2 separate regions of the Homo sapiens genome follow, and region 2 is linked to region 1. The links come from fine-mapping of genetic effects on gene expression. A gene starts in region 1. The other region holds a variant in brackets. All regions are shown on one strand. Distances are between the middles of the regions. Region 1 holds the start of C8orf34 (chromosome 8 open reading frame 34). Region 2 overlaps C8orf34 (chromosome 8 open reading frame 34).

Evidence for each region. PIP is the estimated chance that this variant, and not a neighbour inherited with it, causes the effect.
Region 2: its variant is fine-mapped to the expression of C8orf34 in cerebellar hemisphere (GTEx, PIP above 0.99). The same link has a PIP of 0.9 or more in cerebellum.

What each region holds. Positions count from the first base shown.
Region 1 is chr8:68,328,582-68,333,965 of GRCh38, forward strand. C8orf34 (chromosome 8 open reading frame 34) reads left to right here and starts at 2,374. Exons shown (of 14, transcript NM_052958.4): 1 at 2,374-2,758. The coding sequence starts at 2,432. C8orf34-AS1 (C8orf34 antisense RNA 1) reads right to left here and starts at 2,910. Exons shown (of 3, transcript NR_038877.1): 1 at 2,726-2,910.
Region 2 is chr8:68,381,068-68,386,451 of GRCh38, forward strand. The region is part of intron 1 of C8orf34 (chromosome 8 open reading frame 34); the gene reads left to right. Among named protein-coding and RNA genes, the nearest start is that of C8orf34-AS1, 52 kb to the left of the region's middle. The variant G/C (reference allele first, on the strand shown) is at 2,639.

The DNA of each region.
Region 1 (5,384 bases):
TGGTCTACCAAAGTGCTGGGGTTACAGGTGTGAGCCACCAAGCCCAGCATCTGATGCCATTATTTATATATATGCCGATTGCCTCAACAAGACGAAGCAACTGAGGACAAAGACAAAGCCTTTCACCTTTGAATTCCCAGTCTTAACATAATGTCTGTCACTGAGAAGCTATGCAATAAATGTTTATTGTAGTAATGAAGCCATGTTTAGGGATAAATAGAAAGAACCAAGAAGTGCTTTATGAAGGAGGTGATATTTAATGTTGGCCTTGAAAAGCTTTGAAAATACTCCCTGAATTTTAAATGTGCAATTTTGGGATGCTCAGAGTTTTAACATACATAAATGGGTATGCATATCCTCATGTTGCTCTTCTTTCTTTGTCTCTTGCTCTCTTTCTTCCTTTCTTTCTTTTGACTGAGTCTTGTTGTATGGCCCAGCCTAGATGCAGTGGCACACTCATAGTTCACTGCAGCCTCAAACTGCAGCTCAAGGGTCCTGCTGTCTCAGTTTTCCCAGTAGCTGGAACTATAAGTGTGCACCACTATGCCCAGCTAATTAAAAAAAACAATTTGTTTTAGAAATGGGGTCTTTTTATGTTGCCCAGTCTTGAACTGCTGGCCTCAAGTGATCCTTCCACATAATTGGGATTACAGACGTGAGCCTTTGTACTTGGCTTCATTCTCTCTTTAAAACATACACATTTTGCCAGCTGAAGCTTTGTCTCTTCTATTCAAAGCCCTAAGTGCAATAGTCTGAGCATGGTGAAGACTTAATAAGTGTCTTTATTTCATTTAAAGAAGCATCCTCCTGATGCCTCTTAAAAGAGAAAGACTCTTGATTTCAGGAAGCGTACCATCTTGGTACCTTATGTGGTATCAAAAATAGTAGGCTTTTTAGCTGGGTCATAGATGGCCTTCCTTATGGCTCTACGCTATACCTTTTAGCAAATAGAAATGTTGGTATTCACTCTGTGTATTTAATTTCTCCTGGACACATTAAAAAATACATAAGTAAATATACCTTCGAACCAAAATGGAAAGCACGAGGCAACCCTGGACACCTCACTGCTATTTAACTTAACCCTCCCTAGGCAGATCATATGAGTCCGATTGTAAAAGTATTAATGTGGACATCTTTCCACTCTGGATCAAGTCCATTTCAGGTTATCAGGGATGGTTAAGCTCCTAGCTATTCTAGCAGATTTCTTATGTCTTAATGCATGAAATTAATAATAGTTCCTGGGATATTCCACACTTATCTATTACATGTTTCCACATATTTAAAATACAGAAGGAAAACATGAACACCAATAAAGAAACTATGAGTAACAGAAATCCAGAACACAGTGAAGAAAGAAAGAAAAAAATATATACTGCTGCAGTCAGCTTTTAGGAAAACTGTTTCCATCATTCTGAAAATTTATATTTATTAGAAATAAATCTAATTTTGGCAGCACATCATGGTTAGGAGCCAGGGAAATTGTCATTGGGACCTTAGTATTGTATTTCACAAGAAAGAGAGCTCTGTGAGGAAGCCTGGGCTATCTGCAAACCTTCGACTCGGAAATCCCTGCATAATAAGAAAGGTATTGGCTAAATTTGAGCAGCTCACGCAGTATCTAGAGGAAACATTATGAAGTGGGATAGTGTGGTGTCTGAGATGCAGTTATAGGTATACAGACATGACTCAAGGCGTGGATTAGGAAGGCCAACTTTGGAGGGGAGGGCTGGCTCGCTCATTTCTCTTCTCCCTGTCAAATGCTGAAAGGCTGGTTCCAGCCTTTGAGCTCCTGCACTTTGAGAGTTTTCAGCTGGGTTCTCAGGCTGCGTTCACCCGTCGACTTGCTCCAGGCCAAACCAGATTTTGAAAAGGAAGGCAACTTCTTTTTCGCGGCAAACCCTTAAACCCACGCACCTTCTCAAAACTCTGCCCTTCTCAACCCCTGCGCTAGAGTAGGCAGGGCAGAAGGTGCTGAGGAGAGGCTCAGAAGGGGCGGTGGGGACGATCCCCTTTCGAACTGCATTTGTAGCTGCCAAGGAGTAGCCAACAAGCACCAGATTTATGTGCACTTTGAAAGAAGCACCTTCACCATTGGCTTTTTAAGCGGCGCTGTCGCTAGGGAGCGGCTGGTAGGGCGAGCAGCCTCGGGGAGCAGCCCGGGCTGTTTGTTCCGTCACCGGGGAAAGGAGGTACACACAGTCGCGCGCGCACGGACACACACACACACGCACGCACGCACACACACCGGTGGCGAGTTCGAGCCCCGCGGCCCCTGTCCGCCCGCGTGCGCCCCTCGACACAGCTCGCCTCCCGCCCCCTGATTCCTGCTGCTGCCGCCCAGAGGAGAAAGGAACCTCTGCCTCGAATTTCCCCACTGCGCCGGGCGCTGCGGAGAGCGGCGAGGGTGGGCGCGAGGCGGAGAACGCGATGAATGAGTTCTCCCCTCGCCTCGGAGTTGTCTGAGTTGGCGGCGCTGCGCCCAGGCTTCCGGCTCTCAGCGCCCCACGCGCGCGTGGCTCCCCGGGCTGCCACCCACGCCCGCGGCCGGGGCCGAGCCAGCCACGCAGGGCAGCCGAGGCTCCGGAGCTCCTGTCCCGGCCCCAGTCCGGGTAAAAGGAGGGTTGTCCCCAGCGGAGGCGCACAGCCGCGCGTTCTCCCTGCACTCTCTTCGCGGTCCCATCTGTTCCCCATGGCGTCTCATCCGCAAACCCGGATCCAGGCTTACCTGGAGAAGAACAAGATCGGTCCCCTGTTTGAGGTAAGGCGCTGTGGAGGAGGGCAGTCCCGTTGTCTTTAGGGGAAGGGGTGCAGTAATGAAAACAGAACACTCCCAATCCCACCCCTCCCAGGGAAGGAGGGCTAGAGAACCAACGCGCGGGAGAGGGCGCCCTGGGATTCACTGGCATTCGCTCTGTCCCGGCCAGGTGTCCTGGAACGCGGCCGGGCGGGCACTTAGCCAGTTACCTGAACGCGGACAGGTGAGCTCGGGAGGGCCCAGCCTCAGCCTGGCAGGGGAAGTTTTGGCCCTCTGACTGTCCTGCACCTCTCAGCTACATGTTCAGGACCCGGGCAGGCTGAGGCAGGCGACGCATACGGATGCACACACTCAGACTGTGTTGCACACGCACACTTTCTTTTTTGAATTCACGCTATCTTGAGTGTTCGTGTTGGATTTTCTTTTTTCTTTTCTTTTCTTTCCTTCTTTTTTTTTTTTTTTTTTTTTTTTTTTTTAATGAGGGCGGTAATAGAACCCGAAAAGGTGGAGGAGGTGCTTAGCAGTTAATACAATTAACTGGAAGACAGCTGAACTGGTGAGGAGTAGGCTTCAGTCGGTGCGGGCGTGATGAATGAAATTGGCAAACTGAGAGACTGCCATTTGGTCACTGGACGAAAGGAGAGTCCTTTGCACTGCAGACCCCACATGTGTTAGCAGGAGAAAGGGACGGAGAAAGGTTCTGAAAAGCACACACGTATTTGTGGAAGAAGACTATAGCTCTGAGCTGGTTTTGTTTTTTTTTCTCTCTCTCGCCATTAAAGAATTTAAGACAAAAATACAGTAGAAGGAAGAGCGCGAGGACACGAGAAAATGAGAACAAGAGATTGAAGCCTGGCACCAGCAAAGCGTCCCGCGGGTTGCCAGGGTGCTGAGCAGGGGTGGGGCGTGCGGACCGTAGTCAGAAGTGGAGGCCCTTGCGGAGGGACTCCCTTGGTCCCATCCAGTTCAGGGGGCACTGACCGGCGGCGAGAGTTCGCGGGAGGGTCGAGGTGCTCCCGCCTTGCCCCCGCCTTGCCCCCGCCTTGCCCCCGCCCCCCACGTCTCCCAGAAGCAGTTGTAGCTGTTCTTAACAGCTTGGTTTGGGGTGAGGGCTTGGTATGGGGAGGAGGTTACGTGTCAGTGTCTGAGAGAGGCAGAATCGCGGCAAGTGGAAGGGGCTGCACTGGAGATCGCGGAAAACCTAGCAAAGACTGAAGAGAAGCAAGTGAGAACTGTGGAGAACAAAAAAATAATGCGAGTTAATGACCCTGCAAAAAAAGGGCGCGGAGGACAAAGGTGTGGTCCAATAGGTCTTTTGGGAGGACGGGTTTCACATAACAAGATTTGCAAGATCTCCTAAGTTTTTTTGCCCAACTTTAACGTTGATCTGTCTTAGACGATAAGACCATTGTTTCAATTGAAGCTCGCATTGTGGGGTGCAGAGTCCTACAATTGCTTTGATTCTTTTTTCTGCCAAAAATGTTAACAAAGGCAATCCATGCAAGAGCGAAATAAAATTGATGGAACTACCAGATTTCTTTTCTTTGCCTTTAGTTTAATGATTATTGATTATACATAATCCTATATAATTTTTTTAAAGGCAGAAGCCTAAAACCTTCTGCAACGCAGTGTATTAATTGCATCGAAAGAATCATAAAATACATACATTTAGAGTGTGTGTTTTCTCTCTACTCTCCTGGAGTATAAAGTACAATTAGCCTGGGAGAATAAATGAATTGTTTTTAATAAATACTGTTTTAATTTGTTATCTTAAAATCCCCAAGATTTTAATAATAATAAAATTAGGAATATATGTAAACTTTCTGCAGAATTAGAAAATAAACTCAAATGGATATTTATGAAGTGCCCCCTAACCCCCACCTTTTGATGCTCACCAGCAAGTTATGCGCTGAAGAATTTTAAGTGATAGCAACGTGTCTCATAAAAGCTTTAGGTCCCCTCACCAAAAAACAAGCACCACCATGCTTCGTATTTTATTGAATACATATGACATACACTGGCATTAGCTTAGATTGCAGTGATGAGTAGTGCATTTTTTAAGGTTTGATGTCCACTTTAAATAATTGAAGGGAGAAAAATGGATAATAAATTCTCTTTTAATAAAAGCTGGATGTAACACAGTTCCTTATGCAACAATTTTGATCATGATAGAGCTTGACTTTGAGAGTACAATTATACGTATTTCACAAAATTGGAAGATTTTACTAGCGTGTAGCCTACTTGTTTCATGTTAGAAAACCAGTGCCACCTGTGAAATGGACATTGTTGACCTAGAGACCGTCCATTCTCTTCTAGGACCTTACTCAATAGTTTTCACAGGAATTGATTTGGGTCAGAGGAGGTGCCCAGCAATCTGAACATATTTAGAAGCAGCACAAATGTTTGCTACAATTTTAATTTCTGGGCCACATTTTGAGAAACTGAGCTAAAATCTCCTTTTACCACTCACAAATTGAAATTGGCCGCTTCATGTCTTGTCATCTATGCTTTGTTGTGTTGAGTCAGTGTAGCTGACACAGGCTTCTTTCAGTTTGGAAAATATGCGGTATCTGATAATATGTCCCCCTTGTGGATAGTTTAAGTTAGGAATGTTTTAAGAAAACTTAAT
Region 2 (5,384 bases), 52 kb after region 1:
GAATTATTTTGTACAAAATAAGGTTAATGAAGGAATACTTCAGTGTTCAGTATTTTTTCATGAATATTTTAAGAAGTACAAGAAGCTTGACTATTGTATTATCTGAAGCAGGAAGACTAGACTATTTTTCTTTAAAAAGGGAAACCAGTAAACTTCATTGATCTGCATTCAAGTGCTCTACTCTAAGTTTATTCCAAAGAACCTATAGAGGTTAACTCAAGCATGTTCTAGTTAATCCACTAGATGCTTACATCTCATATATGGCTAGTATTGTATTTTCGGGTTTGCAAATGTTGCTTTTGGAGTACTCTGTTATCATTACAAGATTCCCACCACTTGTATCTAATGTTTACAACACACATCATTTAAAATAGGTATATTAAGGCCGGGCGCGGTGGCTCACGCCTGTAATCCCAGCACTTTGGGAGGCCGAGGCGGGTGGATCATGAGGTCAGGAGATCGAGACCATCCTGGCTAACAAGGTGAAACCCCGTCTCTACTAAAAATACAAAAAATTAGCCGGGCGCGGTGGCGGGCGCCTGTAGTCCCAGCTACTCGGGAGGCTGAGGCAGGAGAATGGCGTGAACCCGGGAAGCGGAGCTTGCAGTGAGCCGAGATTGCGCCACTGCAGTCCGCAGTCCGGCCTGGGCGACAGAGCGAGACTCCGTCTCAAAAAAAAAAAAAAAAAAAAAAAATAGGTATATTAAATGGCTTACAAATTGAGGATGATGTGTGTGCATTCCATTTATTTTTTCTTTTAAAATGACTTAAATACCTATAGATTAAAAACAGAAAGTAAAAATAATCAAGAAAAATGTAAAAGTTCTCCAGTGCTCCTTCATAGACATAACTTTTGTTAACATTTTGATACATATTTTCCAGTCTTTTAATGCACATATATATTTGGTACTTAACAAAATTCAATCATATACAAATAGTATTGCAACCTGAAATTTTCAATTAGAAACATAGCGGACATAAGAAATTTCATTGATAAGTTTAGTGGTTTTCCATTCATGATGTATTCCATAAGTACATGATAACATATTTTATCTATTTCCTATTGTATTGAATATTTATATTTTGCATCTTTGCAGTTATAACCATTGTAGTGGTGGATAAATACGTAGATCTGATTACTTCCTAGTAATTCTTGTTGATTAAATTGCATATAAAATGATGTGCACAATTTAAGACATTTCACATATATTGCCAAAATGCTTTCCAGAGAGATTTTTACAGTTTACAATCTTGACAGTGTTATAGGTTGCTTTTTTCTCTGTATTTTTGCCTCTGTTTCCTCATCTGTGATACAGAAATAATTATACAATGAACTAAAGTAAATTAAATTAGAAATTCAGTCTTCATTCTCACTAGCCAGATTTCAAGAGTTCAAAAGTAACGTGTACCTACTGTGTTGAACACAGCAGACCTAGAGTACTGCTCTCATTGCAGAATACTTTTGCTGGACCAATGGGCCTTAGGTTCAGAAGCATTTCTATTTCCCATCATTCCTGGCCTCCCATCTATTCCACACAGTAAGATGCTGCCATCCCTTGGCCCCTGTGACACCATGCTCCCTTAGTTTTCTTCCAGCCTCTTCAGGCCATTTCTTCTCAGTCTCCCTTAGGAACTCCTCCACCTCCACCTGCTCTTTAAAAGTTGAACATTCTCAGGACTCAGTCCTAGATCTCCTCTTTTTTTATTTTATACTTTCCTTTAGAAAGATTCTATGGATTCCAACACTTTCTATTTGGTTGGAATAGAATTCTATTTGGCAATTCTGAAATTTATATTTATATTTATATCATATCTTCTGATAGGTCTACTTTGCATCCGTGCACTGGCATCCATGCCAGTTTCATCCTCCTGGGAGAAAGGGGGTTCCTCAGACAGGAGCTAGAAAATGAAAGCTCCACTCTCATGATCAGAAGAGTGCTGTCTTTCTTTTGGCCTAGACATTGAGTCTGCATATCTAGGAGGTTATATATTGTAGCATAGGTTAAAGATAATGTCAGACCAAGAATTAGGAAATCTGAAAGTCAGGAAGATGTGACCGTCATCCTAGGTCCAGCACACACTTGAGAGTGAAATTATCTGGGGTCATTATCATGGCCATGTTTATATTCTTTATTTACATCCTAGTTTCTAGTAAAATTTTATTGAAAATTCTGAATTTACTTCAACTGTACGATGTAGAGCACATTAAGAGGGGAAACATTTGCCTAAATTTGGGCCATGATGTTAACCATAAAACTGTGTCCTCTAGCCCCATTTCCCCATTTCCTACTTCAGATCCCTGTGATGGTGACTGGTAATGTATGAGCTGTTCCATAGGTCTGTCTTGCTTGTTCAGACAATTTCCCCATCATGAAATTTTTCTTCCAGCATTAATATTTAAAGTTCATAGTTTTCATGTGATTGAAATACATATTCCCTTCAAGGTCCCTGCTGGGAGAAAGTATACTCGGGTCTAGAATGTTTCTCTAAGGTTTCAGGTCCAGTATATACATCTGCATCTACAGTGTAAGAATGATGAATAAGCTTCTAAGTTATCACATCCTAATTTGTGCTTCGAGCTGTACAGTGTGCAATAGTGCACCCTTCTGGAAAAATATTAGAAAAAAACTACATCCTC[G/C]ACTGCAGCCCATCCTGATTATTTATTTTGACTTGTGCTGAGAATTGCTCATTTCCTCTCTGCAGTCACTGGCATCTCCATGACTGTCTTGTGCCAATGTGTCCAGGAGAATAGCCTGGCACTGGCCAGGTGCTGAAAAAATACTCCTTGAGCTAAAGAACCCATGTTTGTATCATTAAGCAGTCTAAATGAGACAATGTAATCTCCCTAATAGGGTGGGAGGAAGAGGATTTCTGTTCTGCCAAAAGAAACATACAGGATTTTGGTATAGATGCTGGTGAATTTCAAACTGTCTGCCATTCAGATGTGTGTCCTATTTAGGAGATACTTAACCACACTACCCTTTCTCAGAAGACATGATAGGAAGGAAAGTTTTACCCTTTTAACAAAATGAACTAAAATGAAATGCTTTAGAGGTGAAAATTTGGCTCTTTCCAATTCTATTTTCTAAGACTATTATTTTTAAATTTTGTTTACATCTAAAGTCAATGTCAATATAGAGTTCTCAACCCTCTCCTTTGAAGTTTCAATAGGTTCCTTCGAGAGTAAAATGACAGCAACAGCAAAAACAGTAGGTCAAAAGAACATGTATCAATGGCTTTTGCCAGTTTAGTGTTGAAAGTACTAATATCTTGCTGTTTGCATCACTTCTTGATTTGCTGTCTGGCCCAACAATATGTTTGGAATGCAGGGCAGTCTGTTTGATATATATGGCGCTGGCCTCTGCTTCTGGGTCTGCGCTTTTGTTGCCAAGATATTGCTTTACTTGTTAAATAAAAGAAGACAAGATTAATTGGTTAATAGTAAAACTCTAGGCTGTATGATTAAATATTGTACAACAACAAACATTGTGTTTTTAAGAAGTGAGGAGATGCATAGTAAAAGCCAGGGTGAGTTTATTCCATAAGGGCATGGTTTGCCCTCTGCTGTTGCTGATTGCTCTCAGATTAATCAGGCTAAAACTGGTTGTTTAAATACATAAAATGCTTTGACAAGAAAAGTGATCCAGTTGGTACGTGCAGGCTTAACTGTTATCTCCACTCAGCCAAAGGTTTTGTTCTCTCTTGCACTCTGCATATATTTTGAAAGATTGGAAATGTAGGTTCTAATAATAACATGATGGAACCAAGCTCATGGTGGGAGCAGATGGTGAAATTTTAACAGATGACATGAGAGTGTAGAGTGATTCAACCTTTATTTTGCTGATAGATTTTCTATCAAAGAGGATTAACTTTACACACCAGAAAATAGGGTGTTCTTGATTAAGAAGAAGCTGAAAACGAAGGAACGAAAAAAATATGCAATATGCTTTTAATGAGTTTAAAGTCTCTTGGCTCAGTGTGGTTATATCCTTGTGAATGTAAACAACTTGAATTGAGGTCACAGAACCATGGAGTGTCCTCTTTAATTAATAAGCCAATACCTCACCACAATTACTATGTGACAGTCACGGTCTAAGCACTGGGTATTATTTGATCCTTACCTCAACCTTATGTGGTAATTTTGTCAGCCTCATTTTAGTGATAAGGACATGGAGGCACAGAGAGGTTAAGAAACTTGTCCAAGGTCACACACCAAACAAATGGAGGAACAAAGTAGCAAACCCACATACTTTGATACCAGTATTCATGCTCTCAATCCCCACACTATACTTGCCAAGCTGACAGATGTGCCTAAACACTGGAAACAGGAATAGCATTTTTAGTTTTCAACATAGAAAACTAGGTATATTCTGGAATCAACAGAAGATAAGATTAATTGACCTATAATAAAATTATACAATTTGTGATTAAATGTTGAATAATAAAAAACAGTGAGTGAGATATATGCTCCATTGAATCCAGTGTGAGTTTAATGAGAACAAATCATTCTACACCAGCTTAATCTTTGCTTCTGATAAGATAACCAGGCTCACAGATAAGATCCATGTAGGAAACATAGCTTATCTGAGATTTTTTTTCCAGACAATTGGAAAAGCCTTTCATATACACAACACAGATTTGTATAAGATGGAGAAATGTGGAATTAGTGATAGTGCAGCCATTTGGATCTTATTGAATCCCCCTGCCCATGAGGATGGATTGATGATTGGTATGAGCCTGGAGGACTGTCCCTAGTTGTTTGCTAGTGCCAGAACATGGCCTGTTCAGTATTTTTACCAAAAACCTAGATGATGAAAAATCAGCTTTATTTTACTTATTTACTTATTTTTGAGACAGGATTTCTCACTGTTGCCCAGACTGGAGTGTAGTGGCGTGGTAATAGCTCTTTGTGGTCTCAACCTCCTGGGCTCAAGTGACCCTCCTACTTTACCTCCAGAGTAGCTGGGACCACAGGCATGGCCCACTAGTCCACCACACTTGGTTAAGGTTTTGACTTTCTATAGAGATGAGGTCTTGTTGTGTTGCCCAGGCTGATCTTGAATGCCTGGGCTTAAGCATTCCTCACACCTCGGCCTCCTAAAATTCTGGGATTACAGGTGTGAGCCACCCATACCCGGCCTATTTATTTTGAAATACATTAAAACAAAACAAAACAGAGCCTGAACTTGGCATGAATAATATGAAGCTTTATAGGGATAAATCTGAAGTTCAGCATTTAATTTAGAATATTCCAAATGCAATGGTCATTTCTACAATGACTAGCATAATAAAAAAGCTTTGAAGTATTTAGCAATATTAACCTTAAGAAGGAAGACTTAAGGGGAATAGCACATATATTTCAAATATATGAAAGGCTGTTGTAT